2 separate regions of the Homo sapiens genome follow, and region 2 is linked to region 1. The links come from fine-mapping of genetic effects on gene expression. A gene starts in region 1. The other region holds a variant in brackets. All regions are shown on one strand. Distances are from middle to middle. Region 1 holds the start of ACACB (acetyl-CoA carboxylase beta). Region 2 overlaps ACACB (acetyl-CoA carboxylase beta).

Region 1 (12,885 bases):
GGTCTTTATTGGGTCTGCACCTCCATCCTTGATCTTGTTAGCAATGCTGTTTTTGCTGTTAGTCGGGTTAGAGTTGGCTCTACGCGAGGTTTGTTAATAAAAGTTTGTTAAAAGTTTGTTTTGTGCAAGTGTCCTTTGTGCGTCCAGGCCAGGGCATCCATGGACGTCCTTGGGCTGCCCTTTCCCTTGGCGCCTCCCAGGGTTCCCATAGCAACCACCGTCTGCAGGAGGGGCCGCCCTTGCCCCTCCTCCCCGCCCTGCCGCTCAGTGGAACGGCCCAACCCTCCCCTGGCTGCGGTGAGCGCTGGGCCCAACCCCCGGCCTGGAGCAGCGCCCCAACTCCGAGCACCGTGGAGCACCGGCTGCCAGCTGAGACCCCAGAGGGGTAACTAACGGCCTGAGGAAGGCATTTCTTCGGGGAACATGGCGTGCCCGTCGTGGCTACGTTCTGCCAAGCCCTGTGACGTTGGAGGGGAGCCGCCTGCATCCCCCGCTCAGCCAGTGTTTCTAGACTCCGAGACATCTGGAACTCGGAAGTGAGGCCAGGGCTCCAGGAAGACTCCCTGATGACGCACTGGCCCGCAGCCCAGGCTCAGGTAGTGGGGGCTGTCAGGATGATCTGTGGGATCCCCCAGTGTCCGAAGAAAGAAGCCACAATTGTGTTTTTTTTTCTTTCTTTCTTTTTCTTTTTTTTTTTTTGAGCGAGTCTCACTCTGTCGCTCAGGCTGAAGTACAGTGGCGCGATCTCGGCTCACTGCAACCTCTGCCTCCAGGGGTCAAGCAATCCTCCCACCTCAGCCTCCCAAGTAGCTGGGATTACGAGCATGCACTACCACGCCCGGCTAATTTTTGTACTTTTAGTAGAGAAACTTTTAACTAAATGGGCAAGAAAGAATGCATCCAGCCAGAACCTCGAGACTAGCAAATGCATTTCTTAAAAGGGCAGGGAGGGAGACCAGAGTTTGCTTGAAAATACTGCTTCCTTTCCTTATCTATGTAGGGAAGGGTTTATCATTCTACATTTTGTGGTCAGCAAGCTGGCTTTCACGGGAGGAGGATGCATGGTCGATTTGCCCTCTGGTAACTTTGGGATCTTCCTCTAAACAACAGTGGACTCCCTTAGCCAAGGAAGAAGTGAAGGGATAATTGTGCTTACACCAGTTAGCTTTTCACACTTCTCTCTCTCCCGGTGCAGCACTGCCGGTAGGGGGAGCAGTGAGCTCCAAGTTTCCAGGAATAATTCAAAACACAATTATTTTATATTTTAAAATATAAAATGTATATTTTAAATATATATACATACATTTCTATATAATATATACAAAAGTTCAATATACGTATATTGAATATATATGTATATAAGTTCAATATATATGTATGTATATTCAATATATATGTATGTATATATGTATATATATTCAATATATATGTGTATATATTGAACTTTAGTCATGTGGTGACACTTTAAACAGTACACAGAGCAGCTTCTGGGTCCATGACCCTCCAAAAATTTAATTACTGATTCTTTAGAAACTAGGCAACTCAGCCAGGTGTGGGGGCTCACGCCTGTAATCCCAGCACTTTGGGTGGCCGAGGTGGGTGGATCACCTGAGGTCGGGAGTTCAAGACCAGCCTGACCAGCATGGAGAAACCCTGTCTCCACTAAAAATACAAAATTAGCCAGGCGTGGTGGCACATGCCTGTAATCCCAGCTACTTGGGAGGCTGAGGCAGGAGAATCACTTGAACCCGGGCGATCGCACCATTGCACTCCAGACTGGGCAACAAGAGCATAAGAGCAAAACTCCGTCTCAAAAAAAAAAAAAAAAAAAAACCAACCAGGCAACTCATTTTGATGAACTCTTAGCTATGTGGTAGTTGCTTTTTTCATGTGTCAAGTCTGCTATATTCCTGCACTCAGTATGCAAAGATGCATAAAAGGCAGTCTTAGCCTTTTAGGTCAGCGGTTGGCAAACTTTCTGTGAAGGGTCAGGTGGTAAATATTTGAGGGTTTGCAGTTACCCGTTCTCCGTGGGAACTGCTCAACAACTCACTGCAGAGAAAGCAGCCGTGGGCAAAACGTACAGGAACGGGCGAGGCTGTGTTCCAATAAAACTTTATTATTTATGGACACTGAAATTAGATTTTAATATGATTTTCATGTGTCACGAAATCTTTTTTTTTCCTAAGCATTTAACAAATGTAAAAACCACTCCTAGCTTGGGAGCTATTGGAAAACAGGCATCTGGAACCACAGTCTGCAGACCCCTGTGTGTACTCACTGTCAGTGCGGTGGGAACAAAAAGGCAGCAACGGCTGGGTCAGCCCAGGAAAGAAGACATTTCCCAGTGGAGAGAATGTCTGAGTGGATATTGAACTTTCCAGGCCACAAAGAGGAACAAGAGCATTCAACACTGAGGAGCCTGCCTCTGCAAAGGCAGGACCCACATGCTGGATGTGGAGCTGGATGGTTCCACGTGGCAAGGTTTGGGAGGCTTCTGAGAACCTGGCCTAATGATTCCTGTTTCCTCCCTTTTCAGGTGAGTTAGGGAGATCTCTGACAGCTTTTGGAATTGGTAACACAAGGAAGTCAGTTATTAGCAAATGTTGTACTGGAAACGTCCAGTTATAAAATAATTAATTGTGTGAAAGTCACTGCCTGCTTTTGATCTACATCCAGCAGGGGAAGGTCAGGGACTATAAATTGTTTGCATTTTTTAAAGATAGACTTTAGCATGTTGCTAGTATGCTTGCATTATTAGATAATACATCTCTGTTCAAATTCACTTTCTGCTTCAGTTTGCTTCTCATATAAAAGTCTTCGCAAGTATGTTTGGTGGAGAAGCAAACTTTTTGGCGTATGCGTGTGGTGTTGGCTTTTCATCCTTGCCAAACCTTCAAGATTTGCAAGGAAAAACAGGTTGCAGGGAGGTGCTCTGGGTTACTTTGAAAAGACCTCACATGCTGACTTGTGCTGACTCAAGCTGAGGAAAGCTAGAACATTCCTCTGCTGGAGATGGCCTCCTTGTTTAGAGTCCTTCTGACACTGTAATTTGGGTCTGACAACAGGAAGTTCCTTTGTAGTTTAAGTCAATGGGAACCAATTTTTTTTTCTTTTTTTTGCGATAGAGTCTCACTCTGTTTCTTAAGATGGAGTACAGTGACTCAGTCATGGCTCACTGCAGCCTCAACTTCCTGGGTTCAGGTGATCCTCCTGCCTCAGCCTCCTGAGCAGCTGGGACCACTGGTATGCACCACCATACCTGGCTAAGTTTTTAATAGAAATGGGGTCTTGCTAAGTTGCCCAGGCTAGGGAACCAGTTTTTAAGTTTTTGAAATATGCTTGGAAATATAAATATTGGTGAGCGGAGCAGACCAGGAGATCAATAATTTATGTTCTCTGCTTGTTAGTTGTGTATATAGCATGTTCTTTTGTCTCTCTTAATGATGTTTGGGGTGAGGGTGTGGGAGAGGAAGGTAGGGAGCCTTCCAACAAGAAGCTAGTGCTCCTCCAGCCTAGAGAAGCTAAAACATGCAAAGCCAGACCCCATCCCTGGAAATTCTGATTTAATTGGTGGGGGAAGGCATGTGAATTCTCACAGAGGGTCCGGTTTGCAGCAGGACTGGTGATTTCTTTCCAGGTGCCTTGTTTTGTTAGACCATGTGGTCACTTAATAATTTTTTTTGGGCCAGGTACAGTGGCTCATACCTGTAATCCCAGTGCTTTAGGAGGCAAGGCAAGAAGATCGCTTTAGGCCAGGAGTTCAAGACCAACTTGGGCAACATAATGAGACCTTGTCTTTAAAAAAAAAAAATTTTTTTTTTTTTAATTAGCCAGGGGTGGTGTGTGCCTGTAGTTCTAGCTACTTGGGAAGCTGAGGCAGGAGGATCATTTGAGCCCAGGAGTTCGAGGCTGCAGTGAGCTATGATCATGCCACTGCACTCCATCCAGCCTGGGCAACAGAGCAAGATCCTATTTCTAAAACAAAACAAAACAAAACAAAAAATGTAACTTGATACCTGTGACTTTCTGAAACTAACAGCTGTTTGAAGAAATATATTTCTATTACCGTTCTTGTGTTTGATGGAAAGAGTTTATGAATAACTTTGGTTTCAAGCCTTCCAATTATATTCTGGAAAATACCTGTGTCTTAAAGAGATAGTGTCTAGGGAGAACTGAATCACTGCAGAGTTCTTCACCTGTATGTGTGGGTATGTCTAGTCTTTTTGCAAGTAATGAATTTCATTAGAAAGATATTAAGTGCTTGTCATGAGCAAGCCCCTGTGCCAGAAACTCAATATAAATCATTTCATTTTCTCACCCATATGGTGAAGTAGTTGATGAGGACACTGAAGCTCAGCCATTTGCTCAAAGTCATGGCTAATGGAGGGAGGATTCAAACCCACATCAGCTTGATTTCAAAGCCTAATAGTCCTGCCACTGTCAACACCCTGCCTAGATCATGATTATTTGGAATCACTGGGAAAGAATTTTTTTTTCATGAAGTTAGAAGCCTAAGAATTTTTTTCAATGGAATTTTATAAAAATGTCCTTGAATCACAGATGGCTCTCCCTGGAAACATAGGTTTGTTTGAGAGTCACCTCTTTTATTGTCTTAATAAATAGACTAAGAGCCATCACAAGGGCTACTGTGGCTAGAGAACATATGACTCGGGCCGGGCATTGTGCAGGCATTTGACCTGCATTCCTTCACCCCGGTTCCTGTAACATGTACCTGGTGCTGTGGGGTTACAGCTGATAATGCTGAGGTTTCCAGAGCACATGCTTCCAAGTCCAGTGGAGAAAATCCCAAGAAGTCCAATATTCAATGACTGTTCCTTATTGCAAAATAAGCCCAGAAACAAAGTAGCTGTGAACAGGCTGCACCAGCCCCAGCAGCAATTTCCATTTAAACCATTTTGCACAGATCCCGTGCTCAGCGCTCTCGCCAGTTTCTCCACTTGCTGTTTAGTAAGGCCATCATTGTTGGCAGGAAGTGGGTTCCACCTTCCCTGTTGCCTGAGCACAATGTGCTCCTATGTGGTCTCCACTTTCCTGCTGCCTAGTTGGCTGGGCTTCTCCAGCTGGGCCTTGGAGGCGACCTTTGTCCCACATGCCAGCCCTCCCCACGTTGCAGAACACTATGTAACTGCAGCGTGTGCTGAATTTCCTCTTCTGTGCTCAACCCTAGCAAGAGCCAGTCAACCCTGAATGAGAATGTGGCAATGGAGCTGTTTTTTTCTTTTATCCCCAAGTCACAAGAAATTGGAAACATTCCATTAAGTGGCGTGATTTGAGAGGGTTTCGCCAAATCTTTTCAGGGGAGAGAAGCCAGGTGACCTGATAGCGATCACCTTCCCATTCACGGTTTTCAATGGGGGCTTGTTTCTCAAATGACCAACACCTGTAGGCAGTTAATTTTCAGCATGTCACAGGAGGGCCCAGATGACTTTCTGCCTACTGCTTACGACAACATGGACTTTAGATGCCTCATGGCTTCAACAGCTAAGAATTATGAAATAAAGCGAGTTATGGGATTAAAAGGCAGATAGCAGAACTCTCCCAGGAGTAGCCAGGGCTGCACAAGTGGTTTGACGTGGGATCTTTCTCATCTTTGCCCCGGGTTGTTGCTGCTTTGAAGGTTAAGTGCTCCAGGGATATTTTTAAACAGCAGGGGCTGATTAATCTAAAAGTGACATTTGCAGTCCCCAGAGTAAGCAGCTAGCAGGCTTAGATTCAGGCCCTCAGCAAACAAGGAACCTGGAAAATGTAACCCTGAATGCACGGTGGGGAGGACATGGCAAGAGAAAAGCGGCAGGAATAAAGTGGTAAGTCAGCTCGCCCCTCCCCGGGGTCCGGACCATTCTGCCAACGTCCAGGTAAATTCGAACCCAATGTATAGTGAGAGCAGACCCTGTCTGAAGGCATGCACTTGGGGTCCCCGGGGAAAAACGACTCCCGTCATGTTTGAAGGAAGCTAATCAGAAGAGCTCGAAATGTAACGCAGATGAAAGAGAAGGGCCTTTCTTTGCTTCTATAAATGGTGGTGTGGATCCCTGGACATGCTCCCATATAAGTTCCACAACGTTTTATAAACAATTCTGTTTTTTGCCTCCAAAGCTACTGTCTTAAGGAATAGTATTCTGTTTCTGTTTCCTCAAATGGTTGTTCTTTTTTTTTTTTTTTTTTTTTTTAAAGCAGACTAAGGCTGGGCACGGTGGCTCATGCCACCCAGCACCTTGGGAGGCAGAGGCAGGTGGATCACTTGAGGTCAGGAGTTCGAGACCAGCCTGGCCAACATGGCGAAACCCCATCTGTACTAAACACATAAAAATTAGCCAGATGTGGTGATGGGCACCTGTAATCCCAGCTACTTGGGAGGCTGAGGCAGGAGAATCGCTTGAACCCAGGAGGTGGGGGTTGCAGTGAGCTAAAATTGCGCCACTGCATTCCAGCCTGACTGACAGAGCAAGACTCTGTCTCAAAAAAAAAAAAAAAGAAAAGAAAAAGAAAAAAAGGAGACTAAGAGTAAAGCGTTTGTAGTGGTCCTATATCCTATATTTCTAGGAAGACATGACTTTCTTTCAATGTTGAAAAAATGCATTCCAAAATAATATGCAAGTTAAAAAGTCACTCAGCACCGTGCAAAAGTCTCCTTGCTGTTATTCCTGTCTAACCCTCCTCCTCCAGGTAGCCACTGTGCACATTTTGGTATAAACCCCCCAGACCTTTTATTCTGTACACTCACACTGTACACAACTCTCTCCCTCATGTCTATTGTGATTACTTTTATTTTTTAATATCAATGGGCATCCATATAGGTTGGGTGACCAACCATCCCACTTTGCCCAGGACCGGGGAATTCCCGGGACATGGGACTTGCAATTTAAAAACTGAAAGGTGAAGATATTATTATTATCATTATTATTTGAGATGGAGTGCTCACTGCAAGCTCCGCCTCCTGGGTTCACGCCATTCTCCTGCCTCAGCCTCCCAAGTAGCTGGGACTACAGGCACCCACTACCACGCCCGGCTAATTTTTTTTGTATTTTTAGTAGAGACAGGGTTTCACTGTGTTAGCCAGGATGGTCTCGATCTCCTGACCTCAAGTGATCCGCCCGCCTCGGCCTCCCAGAGTGCTGGGATTACAGGCATGAGCCACCGCGCCTGGCCAAAGATATCATTTTATAAATTGCATGTTTCTGCTAATAGTGACATGGAGTTCTTTACAAGATTTCTTTTTATGACTTCTCCAAGTTTTAAGTGGAAAGACCCAGCCAATCCTAATTCATGTGATTTAGAGATGAAAATATCTCTAATCTGTAACTTTCTTTCAGAAGCTCTTAAGAGTTTTATTTGCTCCTGCTCAGGTGTTGTGTAAACTCGCTCATACTTTCAACACCTTTAGGTCTGAGACAGAAATTTGAGTATTACATTACATGAGATACCCAGTCTTCATGGGGAAATAAACATTTTAATCTTTTGAAATGGAGGTTTCCTTGAAGTCTTATCCCAGTAGAAACTTTGACCTTGTTCTTTTTTTTTTTTTTTTTTTGAGACAGAGTCTCGTCCTGTCACCCAGGCTGGAGTGCGATGGCACAATCTCAGCTCACTGCAACCCCTGCCTCCCAGGTTCAAGCAATTCCTCAGTCTCAGTCTCCCGAGTAGCTGGGATTGCAGGCAAGCACTACCACGCCCAGCTAATTTTTGTATTTTTAGTAGAGATGGGGTTTTGCCATGTTGGCCAGGCTGGTCTCGAACTCCTGACCTCAAGTGATCTGCTCACCTTGGCCTCCCAAAGTGCTGGGATTACGGGCATGAGCCACTGCACCCGGCCTGGAATACCTTGTTCTCATGCTTCCTCTGAATTTGTGATTCAGTGACTTGTTACTTCAAAGTAGAGTTCACCTGTACCCAGGGAAACCAGGAAACAGAGTTAGAAATATTGCATTTGATCGGAAAAATGTATGCACATTTCACATCCTATCCTAATAGATCTCTCTGTTTGCAGTGATAATAGTAAATTTATGACCGTAGAGTAAGGTGATTTTCTAGGAAGATAGACCGTGTTCATTTATTCCAGGAATCCAGGGATCCTTGTATCAGAGAATCCAGGCTGGGCACAGCAGAGAAACCAAGGTATTGATTATTGGGTAGTTGGCATACCCCAGGTATGCCATAATAATTATGGGATCTCACATAATTTTGAGGACAATCCTAGGAAGGAGATTTTATTTATTCCATTCCACAGGCCAGGAAACCAAGGTTCAGAGAATTTCCATGATGGGCTCAGGCCAATCAGATAACAAATGGCAAAGCCTCCACCCAAGTCTGCTGTACTCCAGAAGTCCTGCTCTCTGGGCTCATACCTTAGCCACTCTGACCCTTGCTGGGGCCCCAGAAAACAACTACACATAGAAAAGGTCTCTTCAGGCCAGACACAGTGGCTCACGCCTGTAATCCCAGCACTTTGGGAGGCTGAGGAGCTAGATCACTTGAGGTCAGGAGTTTGAGACCAACCTGGCCAACATGGTGAAACCCTTTCTCTACTAAAAATACAAAAATTAGCTGGGTGTGGTGGCTAGTGCCTGTAAACCCAGCGACTTGGGAGGCTGAGGTAGGAGAATCACTTGAACACAGGAGGTGGAGCTTGCCGTGAACCGAGATGGTGCCACCGCACTCCAGCCTGGGCAACAGAGCAAGACTCTGTCTCAAAAAAAAAAAAAAAATGATTTTGAGACAGGGCTGGGTGGCTCACGCCTATAATCCCAGCACTTTGGGAGGCTGAGGCAGGCAGATCACTTGAGGTCAGGAGTTCAAGGCCAGCCTGACCAACATGGCAAAACCCTGTCTCTACTAAAAATACAAAAATTAGCCAGTTATGGTGGTGCGCCTGTAATCCCAGCTACCTGGGAGGCTGAGGCAGGAGAATCGCTTGAAACTGGGAACCAGACGTTGCAGCAAGCTGAGATCGCGCCACTGCACTCTAGCCTGGGCGACAGAGCGAGACTCCATCTCAGAAGAAAAAAAAAAAGGATTAAAGGATTTTCCACCACTCCTGTTGAACTAATTAAGCTCCATATTTTTAAATTAAATAATGAGTGAAGGTGATATCAGAGGACAACTTGAACACACTCTCCTTTCTATTTAGAAGCAAATCAGCTGCAGACTTCAATACTAGCTATTATAGAATAATCAGTTGTTGGACATGCCCCTCCCAACTGACCTAGAAGGCTTTCTCTGCTGTGTTATAAGGAAGGCTTCGGTCTTTTATTTCCATACTCCCCACAAAGTGAGGCTTTTGGAGCTCTTCTGATATGGAGAGCTGCCCATGCAAGGTGGAAACAGGCCTCCAGGGCCAATCAGTTTGGGAAACACCAGGCTGCCTGTGGTTTACAGCAGGACTTCTCAGAGCCTTTACTATGCTAAATGCAGTGGGACTCTCCAAGATGTGACATTGGGATTTGGCCCTAGAAATGTTATTTTTTGGCAAGGGTGGGGACCATCTTTCAGGATTGGTATTCATAGCCACCTCTTGCAAAACATGGAACCGTTTCATTCCATGCCTTCCTCATCTCCTTGCAGGATCCTGGGAGGCAGGACCATGGAGTGGATGAGGTTCACAGGCTCGAGCTCTTGAGCAGGGGGCAAGGGGTGTGTGTGTGCATGTGTGTATGCATGCATGTGTGTGTGTATGTGTGTGTGTGTAAATAGAGCACTGTCTCCCAGGGTTCTGGATGAATTTGAACAGGGAGAAAGTAGAATTGATTCAGTGAGATCTGCTAACAGGCTGTTGCACTAGCTCAGCCTTGGAGTGAGGCAATGGTGGGCGTAGGGGAAGGGATGAAGAAAACACACCCACACACGTGTGCCACACACGTGCACACCTGGAGCTGGAGGGCCCAGCCCGGGGCCCAGCTCTGCCACTCACTGATGTGACTCTGAACAACAGACTTTCTCTCTGTGCCTCATCTTATCATTTTTGTGAACATTTAAAGAGATAACACACACAAAGTGCACAGCATAAGACTCAGTGTGTAGGAGGTGCTCAACAAACATCAGCTTTCTTTTTTATTTTTTTGAGACATAGTCTTGCTCTGTTGCCCAGGCTGGGGTGCAGTGGCGTGATCTCAGCTAACTGCAACCTCCACCTCCCAGGTTCAAGCGATTCTCCTGCCTCAGCCTCCCAAGTAGCTGGGACCACAGGTGCATATCACCACACTCGGCTAATTTTTGTATTTTTAGTAGAAACAGGGTTTCACCATGTTGGCCAGGCTGGTCTCGAACTCCTGACCTCAAGTGATCTGCCCGCCTAGGCCTCCCAAAGTGCTGGGATTACAGGCATGAGAGACCACACCTGCCAGCTTTCATTCTTATTCAACATGCTTTTATGGGTTCCTTGAGGGACTACTATATGCCTCCTAGTGTATACTGGAGTTACAAAAGAACCCTATTTTCAGAGTTGCAAATAGACTGGGGAAGGGGTCGGGGGAGATGAAGTCAGAAATTGATGATAAATCTGTGCCCCTCTGGGTTTTAAGCCTTGCCTGCTCTCACAGATCTTACCTTCTAGTGGGGGACACTGGTAGATGTGTAATAATGACCCACATAACTACAACCTATGATGAGTGCCAGGAGGAAGAGATCAGGGAACTGTGGGGCATAGAGCAAGAGCATGGTGTTCCATGGCATCTCTCTGGTGGCCCCTGATACAGCAGTATGAGGGAGCAGCCAGCAGGGGTTCAACAGCCGTGCAGATGCCTGTGCCCAGGGCCTCACCTGGACACTCCCAGCCCCAAGGACTCAGTGGAGCAGGAGGATTCCCCAGGTAGGCAGCAGGGGTGGGGGTGGCACAGACACACCTGAGCTGGGTGCAGGCCTCCAGCAAGTGTTCACTGACCCTGACGCTTCTGTGTGCTAGGCACTGTGCTGGAGAGCCCAGAGCAAGACAGAGCCACTCCTTGCCCTTAGGAAGCTTCTATTCCAGTGGAGAAGAGGCATAAACTCATTGGTGAATGCAGAGAGTCAGGTCAGCACGTGATGAATGGCACGTGTCCTACAGAATAAGACCACTGAGTATCAGGGTGGGTTTGAGGTGGGGACACTGAAGCCAACCATCAGAAAAAGAGCAAGAGATAACCATGCAAAGGACAGAAGTGGGGGCAGGGAAGGGAAGAACATTCCAGAACATTCCAGGCAGCATGTGCAGAGGAACGTAGAGGGGTCAGTGTGGCAGAGGCCGGTTTGCCAGGGCCATGTAGACCATGGAAAGGGGTGCAGTGAGCAATCATTGAAAAGGTGAAATTCAGTTTATCTGCTTACTACCCGGGTGAGTGACTTTGCGTCACTTCAACTTCTCGAACCCAGAACTTCCTCATCAATAAAACGAGGCTTCCCCTGCTACTGGTCTCACAAGGTGGAATGAGACAATGATTATAAAATGCTTCATATAGGCCAGGTATGGTGGTTCATGCCTGTAATCCCAGTGCTTTGGGAGGCCAAGGCGGGAGGATTGCTTGAGTCCCTGTCTGTATAAAATATAAAAAGTTTCGCTGGGCGTGGTGGCACATGCCTGTAATCCCAGTGCTTTGGGAGGCCGAGGAGGGGGATTGCTTGAGCCCAGGAATTCAAGGCTGCAATGAGCTATGATTGTGCCACTGCACTCCAGCCTAGGCGCCAGAGTCAGACATTGTCTCAAAAAAAAAAAAAAAAAAAAAAAAAGATGCTGAATACAGAGCCTAGCACAAATTAGTACTCATAAGTATTAGCTATTAATATTCAGGTTTCAGTCAGCTGGTGGGTACTTGCATTGTATTTTATGAACTTTTTAACTTTTTGGTATAGGAAAAAAAGTTGACCTGTTTTTTTTTAACACCTTCAGAAGCAGAGTAAATAGCACAGTGGTCCCCCAATGCATTCATCAGCCAGCTTCAATAACCATTGCCTTTCTGCCCTTCTAGTTTCATCTTCCTATACCCATTTTCCCTATATTATTCCCCCAACATTTTATTATAAAAAAATTTAAGCTGGGTGCAGTGGCTCATGCCTGTAATCCCAGCACTTTGGGGGCCAAAGTGGGCGGATCACGAGGTCAGGAGATCGAGACCATCCTGGCTAACATGGTGAAACCCCGTCTCTACTAAAAATACAAAAAATTAGCCGGGCGTGGTGGCAGGTGCCTGTAGTCCCAGCTACTCAGGAGGTTGAGGCAGGAGAATGGCATGAACCCAGGAGGCGGAGCTTGCAGTGAGCCGAGATCGCACCACTGCACTCCAGCCTGGGCGACAGAGCGAGACTCCATCTCAAAAAAAAAAAAAAAATTTTTAAACATACAAGTTGAAAGAATTTTACAGTGGGTGCCCATATACCCCTGATTAGATTCTGCCATTACCATTTTTCTGTATTTGTCACCTGTAAATTGCAGATATCAGTGTCTTTATCCTTGAATACTTCAACATGCATGTCATTAATTAGAGCTCCAGAGTTTTTTTTGTTTGTTTGTTTATTTGTTTGTTTTAAGAGACAGGGTCTTAGGCCGAGCGTGGTGGCTCACATCTGTAATTCCAGCACTTTGGGAGGCCGAGGCGGGCAGATCACTTGAGGCCAGGAGTTTAAGACCAGCCTGGCCAACATGGAAAAACGCCCATCTCTACAAAAAATACAAAAATTAGCCAGGCCTGGTGGCATGCACCTGTAATCCCAACTACTCAGGAGGCTGAGGCAGGAGAATCTTTTGAACCTGGGAGGCAGAGGTTGCATTGAGCCAAGATTGTGCCACTACACTCCAGCCTGGGTGACAGAGTGAGACCCTGTCTCAAAAAAAAGAAAAGAGACAGGGTCTCACTCTGTCGCCCAGGCTGGAGTGCAGTGGCACAATCTCGGCTC
Region 2 (10,443 bases), 42 kb after region 1:
CTCACATTTTAAATTTCCCATATTTTCCACCGCTTCCCTATCGTGTGTGTATTCAAGCATATCAATTGCTGCCAATATGTAGGGGTGTCCCATATTGGGGAGCAAAGCAGAAGAGAGGCTTTAAAAATATATATCTCCGCAGCTCATTTCGGCTGCCGAAGCTCAGCGGCGGGTCGGAGGTAGGCCGGCCCGGGGGCGGGGCTCCGTCCGGAAGGCGGGGCCCTCCTGGGGCGGGGTCGGTGTGGGGGCGGGGCCTGGGTGGGGCCTAGGCGGGCGCGATGGCCCGGGACTCTGGCGCGCAGGGTGCATTTCGGGATGGAGCAAGCGCAGCGCGAAGTTGGGCGCCCGCCGGCTGCAGCAGAACCCCGCCCGCGGCGCTCTAGGACTGCATCTCGGCCTCCGGGTCGCGACCTGGCTGTCCTGCTGGGTCCCGGGCCTCGGGTCGGCTTCAGGCGGTTAAGGGGTGCATGCTCTGCACCCCTGCGGGAGCCCGGTGGGATTGGCCTGCGGGGTGGTCAACATGAGTCCTGCCAAGTGCAAGATCTGTTTCCCTGATCGCGAAGTAAAGTAAGTAAGCCTGCAATTGTAATGACCATGATCTTTTACAAACTTACGCAGTCTTCCTTCCCCTTGAAGTCAAGCTGTGTGTCCTCTTAGCACCGCCCCCTTTACCCCCACCCCCATCCAAAGAAACACGGGCTTGAGTTGGCTGCTGGGGAGATGATGCCCGCCTTGGAAACTCTAGCTGGCCTTGGCGGGAGGGGAGGAAGGAGGCTGGACGTTGGGGGTGACGTTGCTTGGAGGAGGTCGCTTCGGAGCACACAGGTGCCTAAAGATCAGCCCTTGCGCAGGGGCACGCCTTCCCCGCTTTCTCTCCTTCGCCTCCAGAAGCTGATGGTTGTGGAAGGCAGGTCTCTTTTGAAGCTGAAGCCTGGGCAAATCGACGTGAACTTGAGCAGGCTCTCATTGAGGGTCATTTTCTGAGCAGATGAGCGTAGGCATCTCAGTGCCTGAGTGCTTTGTAGCTCTACCTACTTGGTTTTGTTTCTTTCCTTTTTTGTCCTCATTTTATTGCACTTAAAAAGAATTACCAAATTGATGGTGTGTCTGTTGTTGACAATTCAGAAAATTATAGATAAGCAAAAAAGAGGAACAAAAATCACCCATAATTCCACCCCTGTGATGTTTGTTAACAGTTGTATATTCTTCAGCTTTTTTTTTTTTCCGGTGCAGATATGTTTTAATTTATAAACTTGAATCATGCAGAACGTTCTGTAACTCACTTTTTCATTCAACATTAAGTATTTTTCTACCACTGGGCTTGGCAAACTATGACCCACTGCCTGTTTTGGGATGGCCTGCAAGCAGAGAATGGTTTTTTCATGTTTAAGTGATTGAAAAAAAAATCAAAAGAAGATTGTTTTGTGACACGTGAAAATTACATGAAATTCAAATTTCAGTGTCTACGAAAAAAGTTTTATTGGACTGCAGCCTGCTCATCGATTTATGATTTATGCCTAGTTCATGGCTGCTTTTGTGCCTCACTGGAGGATTTGAGTGGTGGGACAGAGACTGACCAGATCTAAAGTACTTACTGCCTGACCCTTGACAGACAATGTTTGCCAATCCCTGCCTACAACATGCTTTTACTGGATTCATAGTGTTCCTTTAAATGGGTGCACCTTAAAATGTATGAATAATCCTCGCCAGGCAGGGTGGTGCAAGCCTGTAGTCCCAAATACTCAGGAGGCTGAGGAGGGAGGATGCTTTTGCCCAGGAGTTGGAGGCTGCAGTGTGCTATGATCGTTCCTGTGAACAGCCACTGCACTCTAGCCTGGGCAACATAGCAAGACCCCATCTCTGAAAAAAAATGTGCCCAGGTGTGGTGGCTCATGCCTGTAATCCTAGCGCTTTGGGAGGCCAAGGCAGGAGAACTGCTTGAACTCGGGAGTTCGAGACCAGCTTGGGCAACATAGTGAGACCCCCATCTCTACTTAAAAAAAAATTAGCTGAGGATGGTGATGCATGCCTGGAGTTTCAGCTACTGGAAAGACTAAGGGAAGAGGATTGCTTGAGCCTGGGAGATCGAGGCTGTAGTGAGCAATGGTTGTGCTATTGCACTCCAGCCTGGGCAACAGAGCAAGACCCTGTCTCTTAAAAAAAAAGTATAAGTAATCCCCTATAAGTAGCGGATATTCAGGCTGTTTCTCTCTGTTTTTTTTTTTTTTTTTGGGGGGGGGCTATTATCAACAGCACAGTGAGGAATACCCCTGTAGCTGAATCTCTGCCTCCATCCTTTATTTTCTTAGGATATGTTTACCTGGTCCATAAACATTCATGCACACCTCCCATGCATAAGGCCTGCAACTGGTAGCAGGAAGGGTCGCAAAAATGGTTGGAAACCGTGACCTCCGCCCTCCAGGAACTTCGGTTCCATTGTGGAAGGCAGATGTCTTCTCAGTAACTCCAATTCGAGGCTGATGGGTGCAACAGTAATAGCCACTACCACTCATGGGGTGCTTTCAGTATGCCAGGCCAAGTGCTTTGTAGGTGTGGTCTCATGCCATCTTCAAAATACCACTGTGGGGGCACTAAGTGGAGAGTGTTGTACCCATTTCACAAACCACTTTAATGGAAAAAAAGAAAAACCTCACACAAATTTGGAATTGTCCCAGCAAGTCCAGGACGTGGGGTCCCCCTATTTATAATAATATGGACATACTTTGTTGGGGGACTACATTGTTCCTCTCTTAGCTTAGAGTGGCTAAAAAGATGGATTTGGACGATCTAACTTTGCCACCAAGCTGTGTGATCTTCTGGAGCAGGTACCATCAAGCCTTGGAACCTCAGTTTCCACATCTGTCCAAGGGACTAGCCCTCATAGGCCTTTCTAGAGTTGTTATTATTATTATTATTATTATTATTACAGACAGGGTCTTGCTCTGTTGCCCAGACAGTGGCATGATCATGGCTCATTACAGCCTCAGCCTCCGGGCTCAAGCAGTCCTCTCACCTCAGCCTTCCAAGTAGTGGGACCACAGGCATGCGCCACCACACCCAGCTAATTTTTGTATTTTTTAGAGAGACAGGGTTTCACCATGTTTCCCAGGCTGGTCTTGAACTCTTGAGCTAAGCAATCCTCACAACTCAGCTTCCCAAAGTGCTGGGATTACAGGCATGAGCCACCATGCCCGGCTCTTTCTTGGTCCGTTGAGACTCTGTGTGGAAGTCGCTGGTCTTGAGTACTGCCCTGGGTCAGCACAAACATTGATGAAAACTAATAAGTAAAGACAGAGTTCGGTTATGAAAGAGCCCTCTGGAGTTGGGAGGCATTTGGGATCTTGTGCTGAAGGCTCGGGCCATCTAAGAAGCCAGAACTCCTGAGAAGGTGAGGTCGCAAATGATGACTGATTTTTCATGGCATGAGAACGGGGTCACAGTTCAGAGAGTAGAGAAATGATTGTGGATCAGAGTGCAGAAGGGCTTGAAATAAAGTTGGGGATGAGGAGGCAGAAGTTGTTTTTTAATGAGTCCCATTTCACTGCCATGCAATTCTGCTCTGAAAGGCCAGCTGCCTGCATGCAAATATTGGCTGTAGACCTATCAGGGGTTTTCACTCTTGGCTACACATTAGAATTTCCTGGTGGGGAGATTTTTGAAAAATCTGGATGCCGGGGACCCCACCTCTACCCCCTAGACATGCTGATGGGACCCCGACATCAGAATCTTATAAAGTTTTTCATGTCAGGGTTGAAAACTCGTGCCTAGCTTGGGGTCAGCAGACTGCTATTATAAACGGCCAGACAGTAAATATTTTTGGCTTTGTGGCCATGTGGTCTCTGTT[G/A]TAACTACTCAACTCTGCTGTTTCCTGCACCAGAAGCCATAGTTATGTAATTGAACAGGCCTGGCTGTGTTTCAATCAGACATTATTTATAGATGGGGAAATTCAAAGTTCATATAATTTTTATGTGTCACAAAACAGGATTCTTTTGATTTTTTTTTTTTTTTCGATGACTTAAAAATGTTGGCTGGGCATGGTGGCTTATGTCTATAGTCCCAGCACTTTAGAAGACCAAGACAGGAGGGTTGCTTGAGGAGTTTGAGACCAGTCTGGGCAACATGATGAAACCCCGTCTCTACAAAAATAAACCAATTAGTTGGGCATGGTGGTGCACACCTGCAGTCCCAGCTACTCAGGAGGCTGAGGTGGGAGGATCACTTGAGCCCAGGAGTTTGAGGCTGCAGTGAACTATTTTTGCACCACTGCACTGTAGTCCTGGCAACAGAGGGAGACCCTGTCTCTATAAAAAACAAATAAGGCTGGGTGCGGTGGCTCACACTTGTGGTCCCAGCACTTTGGGAGGCCAAGGTGGGCAGATCGCCCTGAGGTCAGGAGTTCAAGACCAGCCTGGCCAACATGGTAAAACCCTGTCTCTAATAAAAATACAAAAATTAGCAGAGCGTGGTAGCACACATCTGTAGTCCCAGCTACTCGGGAGGCTGAGGCAGGAGAATCACTTGAACCTGAGAGGTGGAGGTAGCAGTGAGCTGAGATCACACCGCTGCACTCCAGCCTGGGCGACAGAGCAAGACTCCCTTTCGAAACAAACGAAACAAAACAAAAAACAATCTAAAAAGTTAAAACCGCTCTTAGCCTGTGGGAGATACAAAAACAGGTGGCCGAGTGGATTTGACCCATGGGTCCTAGTTTGCCCACTCACCCCTGGCCTAGCCAAGGTAGTCATCCCAGGGGGTACTGATGGGGCAGGTGGCTTGAGAAATTTCCAAGGGTCCATTTCTGGAGAGCGTGGTTTTGTGCTGTTTGAACGATATCAACCTTTACTGGGCTACACAGTGTTCTTTCTTGCTTTCTTGTTTGGAAGTAGTTGTAATTACAGAATTGCCTGGCTCAGAATCAGCTCTTAGCAGTGCGGGTAGCCGTTACCATCTCTATTTTATAGAAGAAAAGAGAGGGAAGAAATTGAAGGTCTGATTAATGCCGGGGCCCTAGCCTAATGGCCCAGCCTGGGCTCCTGTAATGCTATCCTGCAGACGTACATGGTAGCTAAAGTGTTGCAAGCTGTTTACTTTGGCTAGGTCCAGGGATAAACTGTTAATTCCATCATGTGAGGAAACTGAGGCAGGGAGTATTGAAGTAACTTTCCCAGGATTACACAGGTTATAAGCGGTAGATTCTGGCTTCAAAGCCTAGGAGGATGGCCGCAGTCTACCAGAGTTTCTAAACTGCGGCTCTGTTGACACTTGGGGCTGTCCAGTTCTTTGTGGGGCTGTCCTGTGCATTGCAGGGTGTTGAGCAGCATCCCTGGTCTCCACCCACTAGATGCCAGTAGCGCATCCCCCAAGTTGTGACAATCAAAGATGTCTCCAGGTATTGCTCCCCGGGGAGCAAAATTTCCCCCAGTTAAGCACTCAGGGCTGGGCGCGGTGGCTCACCCCTGTAATCCCAGCACTTTGGGAGGCCAAGGTGGGCAGATCACCTGAGGTCAGGAGTTCGAGACCAGCCTGGCCAACATAGTGAAACCCCATTTCTACTAAAAATACAAAAATTAGCCAGGCATGGTGGCAGGCACCTATAGTCCCAGCTACTCGGGAGGCTGAGACAGGAGAATCGCTTGAATCTGGGAGGCAGAGGTTGCAGTGAGCCGAGATGGTGCCACTTCACTCCAGCCTGGGTGACAGAGCTAGACTCTGTCTCAAAAAAAAAAAAAAAACCAACCAACCAAACAAAAAACCTCAGCATTATACATGTTTGTCTCTTATTTGAGAGGAATATAAGAGGCCATATGTGTAATGCATGTTTTAAAAGTCCAGTTAATAGAGGGGCTTCCATTTATCTCAGATTGTCTTTCTGCCTAGAAGTTAGATTCTGAGGTCAGCTAGAGTTGGATTTGAAACGGGGCTCTGCCACTTGCCAGCTGTGAAACTGGAGGTAAATGGTCCTCTCTGAACCTCGGTTTCCTCATCGTGAACCTGGAGATGACAGACTCCTCCATACAGGGCTGTGGAGATTCACTGAGAGGCCCCCTGTGCCCAGTCCATAGTGGGCAGCCGAGAATGTTTATTTCCTCCATTCCTGATACTATTCTGCCTGGTCTTGTGCTCCGGCAGCTGACTGCATTTGGTGTTTGGCTGACACCTCTGCTGTTGATTGTACCTGAAGTCATTTCCAAAGTCACCTTGAAACATTTCAGCTCTCACCCTTGCCGTGCTGTATAAGGACAGGGCTTCTCACTGGACAATGGCACTTAGGATGATCCTCCTTCAGTGGAAGCAAATGCTGGCCGAAGGTCAGCTCTCTAGAGCCAATGTTGGTTGGCTTCCAGCTTTATCAAAAAGAATTAAAATAGCCACTTGCCTGGAGATTGGGCCTGAAACAAGGCCAGTCCGGCAGCTTTGTGTGTTCGCTTGCCTAGCCTGCGGTAATGGGCTTGTGGCCTGCCTGATGGAGGGGCTCTGTCACCAGTTTCGAAATCAACATGGTGGCCAAGAATGGTTTTTTTGCCCCCTAGGCCACAAATGAAGTTTTTCTTTGTTGTGCTTTAGGTCAAATTGCTAGAGTTTTAATGTTTGTGTGTGTAGAAATGGGATGTCTCAGACTTTCTGAAGCTGAACCATCAAGCCAGCCAGTCAGGGAAGGTCGTGGACAGAATGAGGGGTGCGGCTGTGTGTGGGAATGTCGATTAGTACAACCTCTGTGGAAAACAGTTTGGAGAGTTCTCAAGGAACTAAAATAGATCTGCCAGTCTCTCCAGCAATCCCACTACTGGGTATGTACACAAAGGAAAAGAAATCACTCAGTCAGATTCGCTTTTCATTGGGAGGATCTTAACATGATTGGTTGAAAACAATAAATAAAATTAGCAAGGAGTCCAGTTGTGGGGTCTCACGCCTGTAATCCCAGCACTTTGGGAGGCTGAGGCAGGCAGATCACTTGAGGTCAGGAGTTCAAGACCACTCTGGCCAACGTGTAAAACCCCGTCTCTACTAAAAATACAAAATTTAGCCGGACATGGTGGCGGGCACCTGTAACCCTAGTTGCTCGGGAGGCTGAGGGAGGAAAATTGCTTGAACCTGGGAGGTGGAGGTTGCAGAGAGCCGAGATTATGCCACTGCTCTCCAGCCTGGGCGACAGAGTGAGACGCAGTCTCAGAAAAATAAAATAAAATAAAATAAAGAAATAATTATATCAAAAGACACCTGTACTTGTATAGTTATCACAGCACTATTCACAGTAGCAAAGATATGGAATCAACCTAAGTGTCCACCAACAGATGACTAGATACAGAAAATTTGGTGTATATATATATATAATTTTTTATGGCTCAGTAGTATTCTTTTGTGTGTATGTGTGTGTGTGGTGTGTGTGTGTGTGTATACCTACATGTATACATGGGTGTTCCTCTTACAAAATTAATAGCTTTTTTCTTATTGAAAATAACACATCATTGCAGAACATTTTTTAAAATATAGCAAAGAGATAACGGCTCTTAATACTTTAGCATTTTTTTCCCCCAGATCAGGGGTCTGTCTACAAATGATGTCCCTTGGGTTGCATCTACCTTTTTTTGTAAATAAATGAAGTTCTCTTTTTTTTTTTTTTTAGGTAGAGTTTCACTCTGTTGCCCAGGCTGGAGTGCAGTGGTGTGATCTCAGCTCACTGCAACCTCTGCCTCCCGGGTTCAAGTGATTTTTGTGCCTCAGCCTCCCCAGTAGCTGAGACTACAGGCGTGCGCCACCATGCCCAGCTACTTTTTGTGTTTTTTTAGTTGGGATGGGGTTTCATCATGTTGGCCAGGCTGGTCTCAAACTCTTGCCCTCAAGTTATCTGCCCATCTTCGCCTCCCAAAGTGCTGGGATTACAGGCGTGAGCCACCGTGCCCAGCGTAGCATTAACCTTTTAGAAGCTAGAAAGCAGATGAATGAGTGGTCACTGGCTTAAGGCTGAGTCCTAATGGAGCAGTGAGGAAAGTTGGGGACCCCTGGCCATCTGTACCACAGAACCCCCAAAAGGCATAGTGTCTGGCAGCAAGGGATGCCCCTGGAGCTGAGGGGTAAGGAGGGTACCAAAATGAGAAGGACAGGGTGGAAGACTCCCAGGTCCCCTCCCCTGTCTCCTGCGGCAGGGGCTGTCCACTTCGACCCCAACAGAAGGCAGCAGTTCAAAGGTACATATAGAGGGTCTTGGGAGAGGGGATCGACAGGCACAGTTGAGGGCATGGGGCCTGTATCCCAAATAGGAAGATAAGGGTCTGAATAGGTGCTGAATTCTTAGAACTTCCCCGTTCCCCCCGGGGCTCCAGGCTGACCTTTACTGTCCAGGCAGAAGACTGGAAAACTTCTCCCTGGGGAATCTGGCCAGCGAGAGAGAAAGACACAAAGATACTGACTCAGGGGATCCCCAACGCACTCCTACCTCACCCTACATTGAGCTCAGGGTCAACCAGGTCCACCACAGTCTCAGAAATTCTGTTCTCACTCATAGTCACAAGGTTGGAACCAAGGCTTCCCTGACATTTGGGTTCAGTTTCTTTTTCTTTTTCTTTTTTGAGATGGAGTTTTGCTCTTGTTGCCCAGGCTGGAGTGTAATGGCACAATCTCAGCTCACTGCAACCTCCGCCTCTCAGGTTCAAGCGATTCTCCTGCCTCAGCCTCCCATGTAGGGGGGATTACAGGTGCACGCCACCAAGCCCGGCTAATTTTTTGTATTTTTAGTAGAGATGGGGTTTCACCATGTTGTCCATGCTGCTCTCAAACTCCTGAACTCAGGTGATTCACCTGCCTCGGCCTCCCATAGTGCTGGGATTACAGGCGTGAGCCACTGCACCCGGCCCTGAGGTCCAGTTTCTCATATGTAAGTCAAGGTCCAAACCAGTAGACACAGGAAGCTTGGAAGAAACAGAAACCACGCTGGAGAAGAGAAGTTTAAAAAGCTCTCATTAATATCATCGTTGAGGTCAGACAGGATGTTGCACTCATAGGAAGAGGATGCTATAACAAAGGGAACATTTGTAGGCCAAAAACAGGCTCGTAGACATCAAAAACATGATAGCAGAAATGAAGAACTCCACTGAATGTTTAGAAGATGAGGCTGAGAAAAATCAACCAGCAAGTAGAAGAAGAGAGAGAATAGGAGAGGGGAAAAATGCATAAACCAGTAGGCCAGTGTAGGAATTTCAACATCCAGATAATAGGACTTCGGGAAAAAATAGAGAAAAAAAGAGGCAAGGACATCATCAAGGAAGTATTTGTTTCTTGTTGTTGTTGTTGTTGTTTGAGATGGAGTCTCACTCTATTGCCCAGGCTGGAGCGCAGTGGCACAATCTTGGCTCACTACAACATCCGCCTCCTGGGTTCAAGTGATTCTCCTGCTTCAGCCTCTCAAGTAGCTGGGATTACAGATGCACACCACCATGCCCGGCTAATTTTTGTATTTTTAGTAGAGACGGGGTTTCACCATGTTGGCCAAGCTGGTCTCTAACTCCTGACCTTAAGTGATCTTCCCACTTCAGCTTCCAAAAGTGCTGGGATCACAGGCGTAAGCCACCATGTTCAGCCCATCAAGGAAGTATTTGAAGACAAATTCCCAGGATGGAAGTTTCCAGATTGAGAGGGCCTGAGAGATGTGCAGCCTCATTGGTGGAAGCAGACACATACTTGAGCTCATCACTGTGAAATCATAGAGTTCTGGGGACAGAGGGACGCTCCTATAAGCATCTGGATATGAAAAAACAGGTCACCTACAAAGGATCAAGGATCAGAATTACTCTTGTTCTAGCAGCCTTGGAAGCCACAACACAATGGCACAAGGCTTCTAAAACTTGAAGAAGGTTTTCCTTCCTGAAATTTCTTTTTGTTTGAGATAGAGTCTCACTCTGTCGCCCAGGCTGGAGTCCAGTGGCGCGATCTCGGCTTACTGCAACCTCCATTCTCTGGGTTCAAGCAATTCTCCTGCCTCAGTCTCCCAAGTAGCTGGGATTACAGGTGCACAACTCTGTGTCTGGATAACTTCTGTATTTTTAGTAGAGATGGGGTTCACCATATTGGCCGGGCTGGTCTCAAACTCCTGACCTCAAGTGATCTACCCACCTCAGCCTCCCAAAGTGCTAGGATTACAGGCATGAGCCACCATGCCTGGCCCTTCCTAGCATTTCACACACAGCCAAGTGGTAAGGTTGAATGTGAGGGCAGGAGAAAGGCTGAAGTGCAATGGTGCAATCCTAGCTCACTGCAGCCTTGACTTCCTGGGCTCAAGTGATCCTTCTACCTTAGCCTCCTGAGTAGCTAGGACTACAGGCAGGTGCCACCATGCCTAGCTAATTTAAATTTTTTTTTTTTTTTTTTGAGATGGAGTCTGACCCTGTTGCCCAGTCTGGAGTGCAGTGGTGCAATCTCGGCTCACTGCAACCTCCACCTCCTGGGTTC

What was found.
Region 2: its variant is fine-mapped to the expression of ACACB in whole blood (INTERVAL, PIP above 0.99).

What each region holds. Positions count from the first base shown.
Region 1 is chr12:109,110,877-109,123,761 of GRCh38, forward strand. It overlaps ACACB (acetyl-CoA carboxylase beta), which reads left to right and starts at 5,711. Exons shown (of 53, transcript NM_001093.4): 1 at 5,711-5,828. LOC105369974 (a long non-coding RNA gene) reads right to left here. Exons shown (of 3, transcript XR_945332.3): 3 at 7,778-7,908. It overlaps UNG (uracil DNA glycosylase), which reads left to right. Exons shown (of 7, transcript NM_080911.3): 7 at 1-116. RefSeq lists an enhancer at 1-503.
Region 2 is chr12:109,154,374-109,164,816 of GRCh38, forward strand. The region is part of intron 2 of ACACB (acetyl-CoA carboxylase beta); the gene reads left to right. Among named protein-coding and RNA genes, the nearest start is that of ACACB, 43 kb to the left of the region's middle. RefSeq lists a silencer at 122-281. The variant G/A (reference allele first, on the strand shown) is at 3,845.